4 separate regions of the Homo sapiens genome follow, and all the other regions are linked to region 1. The links come from fine-mapping of genetic effects on gene expression. A gene starts in region 1. Each other region holds a variant in brackets. All regions are shown on one strand. Distances are from middle to middle. Region 1 holds the start of LYRM1 (LYR motif containing 1). Region 2 overlaps LYRM1 (LYR motif containing 1). Region 3 overlaps DNAH3 (dynein axonemal heavy chain 3). Region 4 overlaps REXO5 (RNA exonuclease 5).

Region 1 (2,747 bases):
AAGCCTCCAGCCTCATTACCTCGGACACAGATGGTTATCGTTTATAGCAAAGGTGCACAAAAAGGCCTTCAGGTCTGAGCCCCTTAATTCCAGGGCTGTTAATGATTAAAGAGAACGATGGGGGTGGGGAGGGAAATGAGGGCGGAGGGAGCTGGGAGATTCACCCACCACCTCCCCCTAGGGCTCCTACCTCACAGCGCTCACCCAGGACAGAGGACCAGAGTCTGCACCCCCTCCAGGGCAGCTCCAACCCCATATCCCCAGGCCCTGGGTTGAGGGGTGCTGGCGGTGGGGAGGCAGGGACAGTAGGTAAGTTTTCTGAGCCCTGCGGCTGACACGCCACAGGCTCCCCTCACAGCCTCTTCTTTCAGAGGTACCACTCCAGACAACGCGCTGACTTCCACTCCTCCCTTTCCACCCCCCTTTCTCGAAGGTACCCAACCCCCGCCCCTTCATCTCTCAATGCCCCCCCGCCTTTTCCTCAACTCCCCCCCTCCCCAAAACTCACAGCTGCTCCAGAGGTTCCTCCAGTCAAACCCTTTCTGGAAACGACGGCGGCCCGGCGGGTCCAAACCACCTACCATCCCCGCTCGCGTTTCCAGGCTCCCTACCCCCGCCGCCGCCGCCTCTTCTTCCACCACTGCCACCGCCTCCTCTTCATCTGCGGCCCACCGGCGGCGGCCGCCCCGAAGCCCCGCCCCCTCCATCGCCTCCTGCATCATCACTTCCGGTAACCCCGCCGGCCGCCAGCTCCAGGAGGGAGAATGGGAGAGGGGCAAGGAGGGAACGAGTGGAAGATTGCGTCACGACGCACATAAAGACGTACGAAGCCGTCGCCAAGTAAGGGCAAAGACCTAGCAACCCGGAGGGAGCTGGGCTGGACCATTTTTTTTTCTTGTTTTACGGGAATGGAGCGGGGAGGATAATGAAAGCGTAAAGGAAAAATAGGGGGAGGAGGAGCTCAGCTTATTGTTGGATGCGGCGGGAGATGGGTAGAGTCAGTCAGTCGAGACTCCCCCAGACCTGGAACTGGTGCTCCCACAGAGGTGGGCCCGGTGGTTTGGTCCGGCCTGGCCTACTGGACCAGCCTGTGCTCGGTCGGCCACGGCTCTGCTGGGCTCCTGGCGCCGCCTCCTCCCAGCCCGCCGCGGGCTGCGCGCTTCTGTGGGTGGGGGAAGGCAGGACTGACGCAGAGTGAGTGTAGGGGATGGAGGCGCCGACTCCAGGCGCGGGAGACTGGCGGGGAAGGGGTTGGCTCCCCACGGGCAGGGATGGTTTGGAGGTTGGGCTGCGGCGTTGCCGGGAGACGGGCCTGTGTGACCCCAGCTTCGCGGGGGCGGCTCGGTGTCATCGCCACCGGCCTCGGGGACCTGCCTCACGGAAGTGGCTCGCGCGTCCAAGAGGGGAGGCCTGGTGTGGGGACGCTCAGGTGCCGGCGTGGGGCCCCCTCGGAGGCTGTGAATCTTTTGGACCCCCGAATGTAAATGGGAGATGGTAGGGGCCGGTCCGGGGGCGAGAGGTGTCTGGCTGGGGAACGTTGACCCACACCAGGTCCCGTACAGGAACGGAGACTCCCTAGGACCGTGAGAGCCAGCTTCGTAATTCTCTTGCTCTTCAAACCTGAGAGTAGGGTGTTGCTCCGTTACCTTCCATTCGTGTGCAGGAGAGAGTTAAGTAAATCAATAAAGAAGGTATCAGCAAGTGAGAAATGCCCCCCAAAGACCGGATGAGGTGACAGAAGATGGGGGGAGGGCCCCTCGAAATCGGGTAAGGTCGTTCAAAGGAGGCCACGGTTTTGCGGGGATCCGAGACAATGGGTTTTCTGGGTGGAGAGAAGAGCCAATGAGAAGGACTTTTAGGTTGGAAACAGCCAGAAGGCCATGTGGCTGAAGCAAACAGAGCCAGGGCCGGAGTGCCCTGTGATGTAGTTGGGGAAGTGGCATGACTGTAGCAGCGCCTTTTAGCCCAAGGCAGGGGTTTGGCTAATGTGTACCTTAAGGGTTTTAAGAAGGGAAGTGACCTGACCTGATTTACATTTTTAAAAATCCGCTCTGCCTGCTGGATAGAGAAGGGTGGAAGTAGTTAGACCTGTTAGGAGACTGTTGCACTGTAAGACAAAGGAGAGGTGAAGATAGTGTTGAAAGGGCCGGCCGGGCGCGGTGGCTCACGCCTATAAACCCAGTACTTTGGGAGGCCTAGGCGGGCGGATCACGAGGTCAGGAGATCGAGATCATCCTGGCCAACATGGTGAAACCCCATCTCTACTAAAAATACAAAAATCAGCTGGGCGTAGTGGCACGCGCCTGTAATCTCTGCTACTCAGGAGAATCGCTTGAACCCGGGAGGTGGAGGTTGCAGTGAGCCAAGATCGCGCCACTTCACTCCAGCCTGGGCAACGGAGTGAGACTCCGTCTTAAGAAAAAAGAAAAGGCCCTCAGTCACAGTGGAAATGGAGAGAATTCCATTCAGCATATATTTGGGAGGTAGTGCTTGCAGGACTTGCTGGGGAATTGGATGTGAAGTGTGTAGGAGAGGGAGGAACCAAGGTTAACTCCCTACGGGAAAACAGTTTAGAAAGGAATATCGAAAGTTCTCTTTTGAACATATTAAGTTTGATAAGTCTATTAACAAGTCAAATGAAGTTGTCAAGAAGTTAGATATACAAGTCGGGGAAAAATCATAGTTGGAGATAATAAATAAGGAAGGCAGGGAGGAGCTCCCAGATCACCTAAGAAGAGCGTGTAAAT
Region 2 (2,747 bases), 23 kb after region 1:
AGGCCCCCGCCACCATGCCAGCTAATTTTTTGTACTTTTAGTAGATATAGGGTTTCACTATGTTGGCCAGGCTGGTCTCAAACTCCTGACTTGGTGATCCGCCCACCTCAGCTTCCCAAAGTGCTGGGATTACAGGCGTGAGCCACTGTGCCCGGCTGAAAGGAGATTTATTATAAGGAATTGGTGCATGTGATTATAGAGGCTGAGAAGTCCTAGGATTTGCCGTCTGCAAGCTGGAGACCCAGAAGAAAGCTGGTGGTATTACTCAGTTTGAGTCCACAGGCCTGAGAACCCAAGGGGCCAATGGTAGAAATCCCCAGTCTGAGGCCCAGAGAAGATGAGGTGTCCCAGCTCAAACAGGCAGGAAGCAAAAGGAGCCGCTTCCCCTTCTTCTGCCTGTTTGTTCTATTCAGGCCCTCCATGGATTGGATGATGCCCATTCACACTGGGGAGGGCCATGTGCTTTACTAAGTCCACTGATTCAAATGCTAATCTCATCCAGAAACACCCTCACAGATACACCTAGAAATGATGTTTAATCTGGGCACCCATTGCCAATCAGATTGACACAAAAATTAAGCATCCTAGGCCAGGCACGGTGGCTCATGCCTGTAATCCCAGCACTATGGGAGGCCAAGGCAGGTGGATCACTTGAGGTCAGGAATTCGAGACCAGCCTGGCTAACATGGCAAAACCCCATATCTATTAAAAATACAAAAATTAGCCGGGCGTGGTGGCGAGCACCTATAATCCCAGCTACTCGGGAGGCTGAGACAGAGAATCACTTGAACCTGGGAGGCCGAGGTTGCAGTGAACTGAGATCATGCCACTGCACTCCAGCCTGGGTGACAGAGTGAAACTGTGTCTCAAAAAAAAAAAAAAAGAAAGAAAGAAAAATTAACCATCCCAGCCATAATTTAACCAGCCCCTCTCTTGCTAGGCAGTTAGTTTGATCCCAGTTTTCTACTATGCACAGAACATCTTTATATACACACACTTTTCTCCCCTTCTTTGGATTCTCAACTTGCTATGTGATCCATGCTCGTTTTTTCTCCTCTATGCAGGCGATATAGCAAAGAGCACAGGCTCTGGAATCTGACAGATCTGGGTTCAAATCCTGGCTTCCCTTCTTAATGTATAACCTTAAGCAAGTTTTTTAACTTCTCTGAGGTTTCATTTCCTCATCTGTAAATATTAGAATAATAATCCCTTATGAGGTTGTTGTAGGATTAACTTGTGTAAAGATTAATGAATCAATGTAGATACAGCACTTAGCAGAGAATATGGTACTTTCTGAGTAGATCCTCAGTGAATATGAGCTGCTGCAATGATGATGAATATGATTCTTCATATTATTGTTCTTATTCAGATTCATCTGCCTCCAATGGGCCTTACCCCACTCCGAGGCC[G/A]GGGACTTCGAAGCCAAGAGAAACTGAGGAAACTTTCCAAACCAGTATATCTCAGATCTCATGATGAAGTTTCCTAATCTAGAGGAAAGTTTATTTCTGCAAATGATGAGCCAACTAGTTATTGAATGTAAACCAGATGGCAAAACACTTCTTGATTAGGGGCAAAAATTCAAATGTCTTCTTAAAACCTCCACAATTGATTCTCCCCCTGTGATGTAAACTTAGATATCCCTAGAGTTTCTCAGCATCTTTCTTCCTGAGTGGATGGCATTATCCCTAGAGGTCATGGACCTTACATCCTCACTGCAGTCACCTTTGGAAACAAGACCGAGGCCTGTAGAAGGAAAGCGGAAGGATGTAAGAGCTGTTCATGGGAATTCCATTCACCACACATGCCAGCTGATGCAAAGAAATTTGCCAGTCACTGGAAGTTACTGTGGCTACTATAAAACTATGTACCACTCTCAGAATATTCTTAGGCTTTTTTTTTTTCAAGTTATAGATTTGCTTAAAGTGAGGTTTTTTGGTGTGTGCTTTTTTGTTGTCTTTTGACCCTTCCAGTTTCCAGACAAACTTGTCTTAAAAAGTGCATCATTGGATTGACCATGGTTTTTCATGAAATTTTATGAGATTTCTGCCTTAACAAAATGCATATATTCCTTATCTTAAAGCCTGTCATTACTTAGGATGCACTTATAGGATCTGAAAAGCTCACTTTAAACTCATACTACATTCGTTACGAGTATTTTACGTTAACATAATTGAAAAGTACAAGGTCCAAGCTGGCTTTCAAATTATGTCTAAACAGAAATGGGACAAATAGACTTGAAAATAGAAGGGATTTATTCCACCCCTGCAAGGGTAGAGTCAGGTGAGAGTCCCTTGGTGAGTCATTTGTACATCAGTGTCATTTCTTCTTAACCTCTGAAGAAGATGGGCATCAGAAATAAAGACAAAGCACTATCAATTTTTGTCTGTCTATTCTTTTTCAAAATGGACTCCTGACCCTCAGAAGAAATAGCTGGAACCTACTCCTATGAGGAAGAGCACACGTTTTCACACTCACTCAAGGTAACTTATCACAGGGTTTGGCAATAACGTAGGGAACAAATATGATGCTGTATCAGTGGAGTAATAGTATATGTATATATATAAAATTTTTTTTTTTGAAACGGAGTTTTGCTCACATTGCCCAGGCTGGAATGCAATGGTGCAATCTCAGCTCACCGCAACCTCTGCCTCTTGGGTTCAAGCAATTCTCCTGCCTCAGCCGCTCGAGTAGCTGGGATTACAGGCATGTGCCACCATGCCTGGCTAATTTCGTATTTTTAGTAGAGA
Region 3 (2,500 bases), 70 kb after region 1:
GCGAAGCAGAGCTCCACTCCTACATGAGGAAGAAGGAAGAGGTGCTTCCTCTTCCAGATACCCTTTAACATGGTGCCTGCCGCTGGAGCTGGACAATGGCTCTGACCGTTAACCAGCAGCCGGAACACATGCATGGCCTTTTGGGGCTGTGGTCTGGATGTCCCGAACATCTGAGCATTCAACTTATTTGCTTTTTTGGCCAGGCACAGTAGCTCATGCCTGTAATCCCAGCACTTTGGGAGGCCAACGTGGTGGATCACTTGAGGTCAGGAGTTCCAGACCAGTCTGGCCAACATGGCAAAACCCTGTCTCTACTAAAAATACAAAAATTAGCCAGGCGTGGTGGTGGGCGCTTGTAATCTCAGCTACTCAGGAGGCTGAGGTAGAAGAATTGCCTGAACTGGGGAGGCGGAGGTTGCAGTGAGCTGAGATTTTGCCATTGCACTCCAGCCTGGCCGACAAGAGTGAAATTGAAACTCTGTCTAAAAACAAAAACAAAACAAAAATCTCACATAGGCATTGTTACCACATTTGTTTCTATGCTAAAAACATAATTTAAAATTGCCCCTGAGTCTTAGCATGAAAAGAGCAATCGGATTGTTTGAGAGGTATGGAGTTCAGTGCAGTGTGACGAAATGTAATCAGATCACAGTAATTTTGGTATCATTGATCATCCTCATTAGGGGGGAAAGAAATAATTGGAAAGAATTGACCAATGTAAGCAAACCATTGCGCTTGTGAATCAAGAGTTGGTGACCTGATTCTTGCTCTTCCAGTCTTTGTCTTCCCAGTATGGATTTCTTTTCTTTTCTCTATTCTTTTTTTTTTTTTTTTTTTGAGACAGAGTCTCGCTCTATCATCCAGGCTGGACTGTAGCAGCGGTGCTATCTCGGCTCACTGCAACCTCTGCTTCCCGGGTTCAAGTGATTCTCGCACTTCAGGCTCCCGAGTAGCTGGGACTACAGGTGCCTACCACCAGGTCTGACTAATTTTTGTATTTTTAGTATAGATGGGGTTTCACCATGTTGGCCAGGCTGGTCTCGAACTCCTGACCTCAAGTGATCCGCCCGCCTCGGCCTCCCAAAGTGCTGGGATTACAAGCATGAGCCTCTGTGCTCAGCCGTACTTCTGAGTTTCTAACAAATCACTTTTTTTTTTTCTTTTTTGGTAAAGAGCAGGGAACTAACTTTGTCTCCATATAAAGAAACACTAAAATTTATGTTTCTTAAAGGCAAATTAGGATCAAACAGAAACTCCTAATATGGATTTCATTTGCATTCCTACTGTGCATTCGGTACCCTACTGGGCACTATTCCATCTTGTGTCATTTCTGGGAGTGTGAGGAGATTAGAGAAAATTAGCAACTTCT[C/G]CTGGGCAGGAGGGCCACAGCCCTGAAAGGTCCAGGAAGGGATTCCGGTCCACAAAAAAGCCTCAGGAAAGCTGCACAATCAGACACCGGTTTCTCCTCCTCCCTGGGTAGTTTCTTCCACTTCCTGACTCATCCCAGGATGTCACTCCCTGGAAGAGGGATGGGATGGCAGAGACTTGAGCCTCACCCTTTGCACCGAAACCTGATGTGGCAGTTATTGCCTGGGAGTGGGTGTAGTGGGGCGTCCTGGGTCACCGCCTTACAAACCTTGTGCGATCACTCACCTCCCTCCTGCTCCAACAAGTCGCTGTTTGGCCTGACATTACAGAGCAGAATCTTGGCTGTGCTGTTTTCCTTCCCTCTGCGACCCACATGTGGAAAGGGGCTAGCCTTGGTCACATAGGCAAGTCCCCTTGGTATAGAGCAAAGTACAGCAGTTTTGAAGAATCACTAACATAGACCCTTACGCTCTGGCACAGGCTACAAATGTTACATGTTTTCCTCTTAGTACCCCCATTTTGTAGATGAAGAAACTGAAGCTAGGAAAGGACAGAGCAAAAATTGAGCCCTGATGTACCTGATTCTAGCACAGAAACATTAAAGAGTTGCCAATTCATGCGCCTCAGGGGCCAGGCCAGTGAGTGCGAGTGGGTGGGGCTGGGACTTTGGTGAATTGGAACACACAGGGGCAGCATCTATTTAATACCGAAGATGAGTGCAACCCGGGAGGGCAGCTCCGATGTTGCCAGGTTGCCCGATGTTTTCCAAAGAAAAGCTGAAAATTCAGAATTGTTACTTGAAATCTCCTGATTTTTTTTTCTCTCTTTTTTTTTTTTTGAGATAAGATCTTACTCCGTTGTCCAGGCTAGAGTGCAGTGGTGGGATCATAGCTCACTGCAGCTCCTGGAATGAAGTGATCCTCCTGTCTCAGGCTGCTGAGTAGCTAAGACCGCAGGTGTGCTCCACTGCACCTGACCAATTTTTTTCTTTTTAGTTTTTTGCAGAGAAGAGTTTTCACTATTGTTACCTGGGCTGGTCTGAAATTCCTCCTTGCCTCAAGCCATCCTCCTGCCTCAGCCTCCCAAAGCACTGGGATTAAAGGCATGACCCATCATGGCTGGCCCATTATCA
Region 4 (2,747 bases), 58 kb before region 1:
ATATAAAATAAAATGTACCTTTTTAACCATTTTTAAGTGGCATTCAGTATGTTGATATTGTGCAGCTATCATCACCATCCATCTCTAGAACTTTTTCATCATCCCGAACTGAAATTTCCTATTAAGCAATAATTTCCTATTACCCCTCCCCCCAGCCCCTGGTAATCATTGTTTTACTTTCTGTCTTTATGAATTTGACTACTCTGTGTACGTACCTCACATAAGTGGAATCATACAATATTTGTCCTTTTGTGTCTGGTTTATTTCATTTAGCATGTCTTCAAGGTTCATTCATGTTGTAGCATGTATTAGAATTTCATTTTCAAGGCAAAATAATATTCCATTTCATGTATATACCACATTTTGTTTATCCATTTGTTGATGGACATTTGGGTTGTTTCTTGTTTCTACCCTTTGTTTTGTTTGTTTTTTTTTTTTTTGAGATAGGGTCTTGCTCACCCAGGCTGGAGTTCAGTGGCGTGATCACAACTAACTACAGCCTCAACCTCCTGGGCTCGAGCAATCCTCCCACCTCAGCCTCCTGCTGGGACCACAGGCATGCACGCCTGGCTAATTTTTTGTAAGACAGGGTCTCTCTATGTTGCCCAGGCTGATCTTGAACTCCTGGACTCAAGAGATCCACCCACCTTGGCCTCCCAAAGTTCTTGGATTACAGGCGTGAGCCACTGTGCCTGACCCTGGGTTGTTTCTACCTTTGACTATCATGAATAATGCTGCTATGAACATGGTTGTACACATATCTGTTCAAGTCCCTGCTTTCAGTTCTTCTGGGTGTATACCCAGAAGTGGAATTGATGGATCAAATAGTAATTCTATGTTTAATTTTTTGAGGAACCATTATACTGTTTTCCACAGTGGCTATACCATTTTACATTCCTACCAGCAAAGAACAAAGGTTCCAACTTATCTACATCTTCACTGACACTTGTTTTCTATTTTATTTAATAGTAGCCATCCTAATGGATGTGAAATGGTATCTCATTTGGGTTTGATTTGCGTTTCCCTAATGATTAGTGATGTTGAGTGTCGCAGGCAATTTGTACATCTTTTACAGCAAAGTCTATTCACTTGTTTGCCCTTTTTTTCTTATTTATTTTTTTCAGTTCCAGCTACTCTGCAGTGTTTGCCCATTTTTAAATCAGGTTGTTTGGCTTTTTTATTGTTGAATTGTAGGATTTCTCTGTACATTCTGGATATTAATCTTTTATTAGCTATGTGATTGCAACTATTTCTCCATTCTGTGGGTT[G/A]CTTTTTGACACTGCTGTTAGTGTCCTTTGATATACAAAAGGTTTTAATTTTTATGAAGTCTAATTTGTCTATTTTTAATTTTGTTGCCTGCCTTTGATGTCATATTCAAGAAACCATTGCCAAATCCAGTGTCATGAAACTTTTCTATGGGAAGGCTTTTATCTCCATATTGATGCTATGGCTCAGATAATCACAAAGATTTAGTTACTCCGAGTTAACAAACAGAAAAGCAGACCATTTGAAGATGTAGCCTATCCAGTGGAAGAACTTATCCTTCCCAAGCTTATAAAGTTAAGCCAAAAGACAAATGGGAATCTCTGCCCGTGACTTGCAGTGATGACTTTAGTGATGCATAATAAATATTATGAAAAGCCTGTTGGGTAGTTCCATTTTAAATGACAAAGTTATTTGTTGTCTGAAAGCTAGTTTCTGAACTTTGATGATCCCATTTAAAGTTGACAGTTTACAATCAATACTTGTGTAGCCCAGCACAGTAAAGGCATCCATTCTGGTGGCTTTGGCCACTGTAGTTTGAATCCTTTCCCCAACCCCTTCTTTAGCAGTTTGAGCTGGAAAGCAATGATGAGGAAATCTTGGTCTTTCTGCAGCCTCATCTCTGTATACAGTATGAAGTCCTAGAAGCTGCCCAGCTGGCCATAGAATCCTTGGATGGTATTCTGGTAGATGGTATCTGCATCAAGGTAGGGTGACAAGAGAAAGCCCCCTTTGCTTGGGTCTGGCCTACCACAGCCTGTATTTATAGTGCCCCAGGACATATAGGAAACACTCTCAAGAGGCCCACGCACAAGACTTTGTTATGGAAAGTCTTCAGCCAAGTCTAACATTCTCCTACTGGCAGTGATTGAAGACATAACGGCTTTCATTTGTGTCAGAAATCATCCTGGGCTAGATTTGGGTCTTCCTTGCATTCTTTGTTACTACTTAAGTCCCCTGTGGTTTATTCTGGTTGGTTCTTTGTGGTTACCCTTTTCTTCACCTTTCAGGGAGATCAAATGGTGGTATTTTGAAGTTTCTTGTGCACATAAACAGAATTTCATTAAGGGTGGGAGGCAGGAAACTGAAGAGAATATGTTTACATGAAAATATGTATTTATCAATTAAGTCTCTAACATAATTCTGTGAGGCCATTATCTTTAGTTTCCTTTTACAGAAAAGAAAAGAAACGGAAAATTTTAGGAAACTGAAAAATGAAGTTATTAGTAATGGCAACAACTTGCTAGTATCCAATAGGCCTGAGGATTAAATTGATTTTCTACCACTAACACCAACTTTCCTTGGTTAGGTGCAGAGGCCTGTGACAGAGCTCACGCTTGATTGTGACACCCTCGTGAATGAGCTGGAAGGAGATTCTGAAAACCAAGGCTCTATATATCTGTCTGGAGTGAGTGAAACCTTCAAAGAACAGCTATTGCAGGAGCCCCGCCTCTTTCTTGGCCTGGAAGCTGTGATCTTGCCTA

The links. PIP is the estimated chance that this variant, and not a neighbour inherited with it, causes the effect.
Region 2: its variant is fine-mapped to the expression of LYRM1 in whole blood (TOPMed, PIP above 0.99).
Region 3: its variant is fine-mapped to the expression of LYRM1 in whole blood (INTERVAL, PIP above 0.99).
Region 4: its variant is fine-mapped to the expression of LYRM1 in whole blood (TOPMed, PIP above 0.99).

Annotation. Positions count from the first base shown.
Region 1 is chr16:20,899,696-20,902,442 of GRCh38, forward strand. LYRM1 (LYR motif containing 1) reads left to right here and starts at 1,076. Exons shown (of 4, transcript NM_001128302.3): 1 at 1,076-1,194. DCUN1D3 (defective in cullin neddylation 1 domain containing 3) reads right to left here and starts at 663. Exons shown (of 3, transcript NM_173475.4): 1 at 509-663. RefSeq lists enhancers at 223-272, 482-1,267, 1,268-2,053.
Region 2 is chr16:20,922,631-20,925,377 of GRCh38, forward strand. LYRM1 (LYR motif containing 1) reads left to right here. Exons shown (of 4, transcript NM_001128302.3): 4 at 1,370-2,376. The coding sequence ends at 1,486. Among named protein-coding and RNA genes, the nearest start is that of LYRM1, 23 kb to the left of the region's middle. The variant G/A (reference allele first, on the strand shown) is at 1,410.
Region 3 is chr16:20,970,046-20,972,545 of GRCh38, forward strand. The region is part of intron 51 of DNAH3 (dynein axonemal heavy chain 3); the gene reads right to left. Among named protein-coding and RNA genes, the nearest start is that of LYRM1, 71 kb to the left of the region's middle. RefSeq lists an enhancer at 977-2,176. The variant C/G (reference allele first, on the strand shown) is at 1,370.
Region 4 is chr16:20,842,057-20,844,803 of GRCh38, forward strand. It overlaps REXO5 (RNA exonuclease 5), which reads left to right. Exons shown (of 20, transcript NM_030941.3): 16 at 1,878-1,970; 17 at 2,573-2,747. Among named protein-coding and RNA genes, the nearest start is that of REXO5, 37 kb to the left of the region's middle. The variant G/A (reference allele first, on the strand shown) is at 1,269.